2 linked regions of the Homo sapiens genome follow. The protein of the gene in region 1 interacts with the protein of each later gene in a pairwise test. Each region holds a gene or a part of one and is shown on either strand. Other genes may lie near its edges.

The links.
Region 2: the proteins of PTPN4 (region 1) and LPL interact in a two-hybrid assay, tested with the Homo sapiens proteins (one large-scale study listed by BioGRID and IntAct).

Annotation. Positions count from the first base shown.
Region 1 is NC_000002.12:119,762,778-119,766,606, reverse strand, and holds part of PTPN4 (tyrosine-protein phosphatase non-receptor type 4), read right to left. Parts: intron 1-3,829. UniProt on the Homo sapiens protein: Phosphatase that plays a role in immunity, learning, synaptic plasticity or cell homeostasis. Regulates neuronal cell homeostasis by protecting neurons against apoptosis.
Region 2 is NC_000008.11:19,952,736-19,956,564, forward strand, and holds part of LPL (lipoprotein lipase precursor), read left to right. Parts: intron 1-574; coding exon 575-686; intron 687-1,384; coding exon 1,385-1,618; intron 1,619-3,105; coding exon 3,106-3,348; intron 3,349-3,829. UniProt on the Homo sapiens protein: Key enzyme in triglyceride metabolism.

The sequences.
Region 1 (3,829 bases):
TCTAAATTGTTCCTGAATGTTAATGCTGATTTCCCAAGAGGCAGACTAAATGCATGTTTAGGGCACCAGTAACGCAAGGGCACCAAAGAGATATTTCACACACACACACACACACACACACAGACACACACACACACACACACACACACACACACACGCGCGCACATGCGCATACACCAGTGAAATGGGGGAGGCAGCGGGTAAAGGGAGGGAAAAAGAGAGAGAAAGAGGAAGGTGACTTAAGAATTCTTAAGTTTACCTTAAGCTTACTTTAGGATTTGATATTTATTTCTGATTCCATAGTGGATGCCAAGGGTGAGTAGGAACCATAAACTTTCTAATACTTACAGTCTCTAAAACAGTGGTTTTCCCAATCCTTTTCCCAACTTGGCAACAAAGAAAATAATAATTTCTTAGCACGTTGGGATAAGCCACAAATGCTATTCAAAGCCAAAAGAAACCATCCTGGGGCAGGGTGGGGAGGGGGATCTGATATGCCCAGGTCCCATTAAACAAGGGTATCTTGCTCTCCGAAACACTGGTAAACCATTCATGGCACACCAGTTGGGAAGCTCTATTTTAAAGGTCTTAAAATGATCCCACTCATTGCCCAAACACAAGGACCCTCACAAGACTTCATTTCCCACTGCAATCAACGCACATGCGCGCGCGCACACACACACACACACACAGATTCACACACAGGAACAGACAACCACACCCACCCAGACAGAGACAGACATATCCAACAAGACAACTTACATTTCTCCAAACACACCACACATTCTTTCATACTTTGACTTTTTCTATATGCTGTTCTCTCTACCCAGATCAATTCCAAATGATCCTCCAAGACCATATTCAAATGCCACTTCTTTTCCCCAGATCTTATTACACTGTCACTATGAATTGTTAATTGTTTGTTGACATGTGTTACCACCCTAGAATTTGAGCTCAAGGACAAGAATCATGTCTTATTTACCTTTATACCACTGCTCCCACTACAATGGGCATTTCAAATGTTTGCTTAACATATAAAGGAATGTTCATTACATCATCACCAAATAAATTTTCAAATTACATTAATTAAAACAATGAAATACAATTATAAAATTAGCATTTTTTTCTTCCCAAAACAAGAACAACCACTGTAGGTACTTCTGTAAGAGAGAGATCTGGCACAGAAATATTCATGACACTTGACCATTATCCCAGTCCTAGGGTTTTAAACTGAGGAAATAAACAAAAAACCGCTTAACAAAATGTAAATGTCTAAATCAGTTATGGTATATCACCTGAATGTTTAACTAATCACTTAAATTATATTCATTGACCTTGGTGGCTTTGGGTAGCTAAAATAAATAAATAATATTCATGAAGATGGGAATAGAAAAATGAAAAAATAATACCAACTATCACTGACTGATCATCTCTTGTATTTAAAGCACAGCGCTAGATGCCTTACATATAGTATCTTAATCCCCACAATTCAAGACCACCTGACTCAGAAATGAGACACTTTGCCCAAGGCTTTTGACGCTAGATTCCACACCAGATTTGACTCCTGACTCAGAAATCAGACAGTTTGCCCGAGGTTTTTGACGCTAGATTCCACACCAGATTTGACTCCAAAGTCTGTGATCTTTCCCCTACATTGCACAGCCTCCACCATACAATGTTCCCATTATATTCCTCTCAAAATTCTCTCTACCACACAACTTTATTTTTTAAATATGAACAATTACCTGGAAAGAAACAAAAAATAGCTATTATGGTGGTGATCAAGGGTAAACGTTGTTACAGTATTTATCCTTTTTAAAAATTAGCAACTTTTAAAAGTAGCATTGTTGAAAAATGAACTAAATTCATAAGACAATACAAAAGACGCTATTCCTATTTTAATTTTTTTAACCTAAGAAAATTAAGGAAACAGAGTAGGTAACATAAAAACTTAAGAAAAAAAAAAAGCTTAAGAAGATATTAAACTATATCTAAACAAGCATATATTAACCTTAGGGTACTTATTACCAGGATTCATTAACTGATCCTTGTGAGTGGATTAAGCAGCATTCTTCCAGAAACAGGTGAATTTTGAAAAAGGTTTAAAGAGGAGGCACATGAATTGGAGACAGAGATGTTTAAATTATGGAAACGAGGACAAAGGAAAAAACAAGACTATTTTCTTTTTAAGCACGAATGAGAAACAAGGTTAATGAGATGAAGTTGGTAGAAAGTCTTCAAGGTCAAGCAGGTAAATTTGGGATTAATTTGATAAGCACCGGGGAACTCCTATATATTTTTAAACGGGAAGGTGGCATGTTAAAATATGGCCTTTAAAGATTCAAACTTTGTTCCATCATAAAGTACTGCCTTGAGTTACACAATGTTTTTGCCGAACAGTTGGGGAGGTGGGGAATAATCCACTATCCTTTATGTGTGCTTTATACATACGCTTCTCAAAAAGAGAAACTGACTAAACAGAAATCTTTAGGTAATGGGTGAGCATATTGGGGAGGGGATCCTTTCAGACATAATGCTTGTGAATATTGAATGCTACTGTATGTTTTAATAACAGTCACAGAACTTCAGGCAAGAAGGAACCTTGGAGATAATCTCTTAGTGGCGACCCCTTCATTTTCACACCAGATTAGACTGAAGCCCAGAACTAAACAACTTGCCCAATGCCATGCATAAACCAGTGGAAGATTAAATACTACAACTCAGATTTTCTAAGCAGTCAGACCTAAAGCTATGCTCTCCAATACTATAGCTACTAGCCACATCTGGCTATAAATTTAAATTGATTTAAATTAAATACAATTTTAAATTGAGTTTCTCAGACACACTCGTCACATTTTAAGTGCTCCATAGCCACACATGATTAATGGCTACCATAACTAACAGTGCAAAAAATATTTCTATGATATTTGTCAATTATACTTCAATAAAGTTGAAGGAAAAAAGAATATTTCCATCATTGCAGAAAGTTTAATTGGACAGAACCGATCTAAAGAATAAGTTTTAGAGAATTCCACTTACTAGAAGTATGAGCCTAGACAAGTTATTTCATTTCCCTTAGCTTCTATTTGGCAGGGAGAGGACAGGGGATTAATAATACCTACCTCATAAAGCATACTTGGTGAGTGGGACAACATGAAAAGCCCCTTATACAGGATCTGACACTTAACAGACAATAAATATTAACACTCTTCCCCTCTGGGTCCTTTTTTCTTTCTACTACTCTATATAACCTCCTTGTTAAAAAATACAAACACAATAACCAACCCAAATTGATATTTTCCTCATGATAGTCTATACGATGTAATTTTCATTTTGTTCTTACTAATTAATTCAAATACTTGCATCTCTCTTCCAAAGTTTCTACTTAAGAATAATGAAATGAAGAATGAATGTGAGGGAAGATATCTCTAATGAAATGAAAGAGTCTAATAAATTTCCCCTCCTCTTTTTCCCCATTCATGCAAAAGATAAGAAATTATGCTGTTCCTAGACAATGGTACTTTCATATCAATAAAGAAGATTCTACGGTATTTCTACATTATATCCTATCTCATCATCTATACTACTCATTAAATATTAAATGAAGAGATAACACCTCCTTCCTACAGTGCTTTCCTGGCAAACAATAAAAAGGATTTTCAGAATGCTAAGCCAAACTTCAAGGCTTCACAGCTTATTCTAGTAAACTGGCAAATTTAACAAATCTGGATTATAGTACATAAAAAACTTCATAACATGCAATAACCCAGGAAAACAACAAAATTCAACTCAGTTAGTAAACTTCTACCAATAACTAAATTTTACATAG
Region 2 (3,829 bases), on another chromosome or scaffold:
AAATGAGGGGCTGGACCATGTACCTCTGGTCCCTTCCACTGAATGTTTCCTGAGTCTGTCATTGCTTGGCTAACCTTCAATGATAAAGTGATACAGATATTTAGAGTAAGGAATAATGGGAAAATATATACCCATATACTATACATTCAAACATACACACATATACATATATGCATGCATATAAATGTATACGCATATGTATATGTGTATATGTTTGTACGTATAGTATATGGTTATATATGCAAATACATATACATATACAAACATATGCATATATTATATACATAAATAATACTATTTCAGATGCATGGAAAAACTTTGTAATTTAAATCTGCTATTAAAGAAAGAGAAAATCAATTCTGGATTTGTTTACGGAAAAGTGAAACAAAAGAAAAAGACAATTTTAACACTAGAGAATATTTTCTCTCTCTTACCTGTAACACAAAATTAAAATAAGTAGAATTAGTTTTCAGTATTTCCTATATTTGGAAAACAATATTTATATTCATTTTGTTTCTTTTAGTTTTATTTTTGGCAGAACTGTAAGCACCTTCATTTTCTTTTTCTTCCAAAGGAGGAGTTTAACTACCCTCTGGACAATGTCCATCTCTTGGGATACAGCCTTGGAGCCCATGCTGCTGGCATTGCAGGAAGTCTGACCAATAAGAAAGTCAACAGAATTACTGGTAAGAAAGCAATTTCGTTGGTCTTATCATAAGAGGTGAAAAGACTGTCATTCTGAGAGAGAATCAGAACAAATTTTGTTAAATACCCACATGTGTGGTGTTCTTCCCGGAGACATGACCAGCACTTGATTATCTCATTGTAGGGCTCTTTATTAGGGATAAGAAAAAACACAGACGCTCTCACTGGCTTACTATCCACTGGCAATAGCACAGAAATAAAGCATAATTACACACAATGCCTGCAGATTTCTCTGGGAAGCCTGTTTCCTCCCACTCTCAGCTCTGTGTTTTAGTAGTGTAAATGCACATCAGTACTAGGAGAAAAGAAGAAGGACCAATTCCAGAGGCCACTTCGAAAGAAGACCGTCATCTAGGCAAAGGTGTGGCATACACACAGAGAGAAAGAACCCACCACTGTTTATACATCTTCTCGACATATTCAGAAATAATCTACAAAAGGAAATCCAGCCATCCTGAGTGGAAACTGCTGCATAAGGCTAGTTTAAGAGACTCAAATTCATTTTAGAAGGAGCCAAGCCTCCTTTTATGTCTCTCTAAGTAAAGATACCATGACTGTAGAATAGGAGCTAATAAGAATCTAAATAGCTGCCAGTGCATTCAAATGATGAGCAGTGACATGCGAATGTCATACGAATGGAAATTTACAAATCTGTGTTCCTGCTTTTTTCCCTTTTAAGGCCTCGATCCAGCTGGACCTAACTTTGAGTATGCAGAAGCCCCGAGTCGTCTTTCTCCTGATGATGCAGATTTTGTAGACGTCTTACACACATTCACCAGAGGGTCCCCTGGTCGAAGCATTGGAATCCAGAAACCAGTTGGGCATGTTGACATTTACCCGAATGGAGGTACTTTTCAGCCAGGATGTAACATTGGAGAAGCTATCCGCGTGATTGCAGAGAGAGGACTTGGAGGTAAATATTATTTAGAAGCGAATTAAATGTGACTCTTATCCTTAACCCTTATTGACCCAATGTCCTACTCAGTAGCTTCAAAGTATGTAGTTTTCATATACACATTTGGCCAAATTATGTTTCTGAAGAATTCTGCAATGTTCAGCATGACCACCTTAGAGCCAGGCAGACAGCCATTTTATCTTTTATTTACTATACTGTAGGCTACACTGAGCAGTGCACTTACAGTAGCAAGAGAAAAAGGTGGGATTTTAGACAGGAAGACTCCACTGACCTCAATAATGGCATCATAAAATGCTATCTGGCCACATGTTGTCATACCTTGAATGTAGCTGCAAAGCCAATGGAAAGATTTTAGATGTTACTGGAACAGAAGATGTTAATTAGGATAAATCTTCCAAAATGTTCAGAACATAATGTTAGCTTAATGTTTTACTTTAATAATGTTAGCTTGTGTTAAATTTATGATTTTTGTTTGTTTGTTTTTTGAGATAGAGTCTTATTCTATTGCCCAAGCTGGGGTGCAGTCACACAATCACAGGGACTTGCAATGTTGCCCAGGCTGGTCTCAAACTCCTGGCCTCAAGTGATCCTCCTGCCTCAGCCTCCCAAAGTTCTGGGATTGCAGCTGTGAGCCACCACGCCCAGTTTACGATTTATTTTTAAGAGCCCCTTGCATACTTTATAGACATTGGGACCTACCTAGGATATTCTCGTTATTTTTGTGCACGTAATAGAACTTAGAGCATATTGTTACTATTTTCGATTGTCCTAAAAACTTACAAGGAATTCATTCTTATGGCATTGCTGATTATTTCTATGTTCATTTGATATAAAAGAGTGTTAGTAGGGGCAGAACCCTCAATTGTACATAATATCAATGATAAAATACAATTCATTTAACAATTACCCTCTTAAGATGTGGTTTCTAGAAATACAAATTGTCCCTAACTTACAGTTTTCCAACTTTACAATTGGGCTGTAACACCATTTTAAGTTGAGAAGCACGTGATGGTTTGACTTAAAACTTTTTGACATTATGATGGGTTTTGGGGGTATTAAGTGCATTTTGACTTACAGTATTTTTGACTTATGAAGAATTTATTGTAAGGCAAGGGGCAGGTATATGTTTCTAGAAGCACCTAGAAGTGTTAGACACTTTCAATGTAAGAGAAGGATGAGATAAACAAGGAAATCAACCTCCACCTTGGAGGCTTATTACAGCTTCATAAACATACTCATAAATATAAGAAGCACAAAAGTCAAAAATTCCCTGTGAACTTGCAACTTTCACTCTCTTGAAGGTGGGTGGGCCGCTACCACCAAGAATATCTCCTGAAATAGGGCCTACAATCATAAATGCACAGGACTATATCCTTGGGTGATTCTACTCTAACACCACATCTCACCTATTTTAGACATGCCAAATGAAACACTCTTTGTGAATTTCTGCCGAGATACAATCTTGGTGTCTCTTTTTTACCCAGATGTGGACCAGCTAGTGAAGTGCTCCCACGAGCGCTCCATTCATCTCTTCATCGACTCTCTGTTGAATGAAGAAAATCCAAGTAAGGCCTACAGGTGCAGTTCCAAGGAAGCCTTTGAGAAAGGGCTCTGCTTGAGTTGTAGAAAGAACCGCTGCAACAATCTGGGCTATGAGATCAATAAAGTCAGAGCCAAAAGAAGCAGCAAAATGTACCTGAAGACTCGTTCTCAGATGCCCTACAAAGGTAGGCTGGAGACTGTTGTAAATAAGGAAACCAAGGAGTCCTATTTCATCATGCTCACTGCATCACATGTACTGATTCTGTCCATTGGAACAGAGATGATGACTGGTGTTACTAAACCCTGAGCCCTGGTGTTTCTGTTGATAGGGGGTTGCATTGATCCATTTGTCTGAGGCTTCTAATTCCCATTGTCAGCAAGGTCCCAGTGCTCAGTGTGGGATTTGCAGCCTTGCTCGCTGCCCTCCCCTGTAAATGTGGCCATTAGCATGGGCTAGGCTATCAGCACAGAGCTCAGAGCTCATTTGGAACCATCCACCTCGGGTCAACAAACTATAACCCTTGTGCCAAATCCAGCCTACTTCCTGCTTTTGTAAATAGTTTTTTTAAAACTTTTAAGTTCAGGGGTACGTATGTAGGTTTGCTAAAAAGGTAAACTTGTGACATGGGAGTTTGTTGTCCAGAATATTCCATCACCCAGGTATTA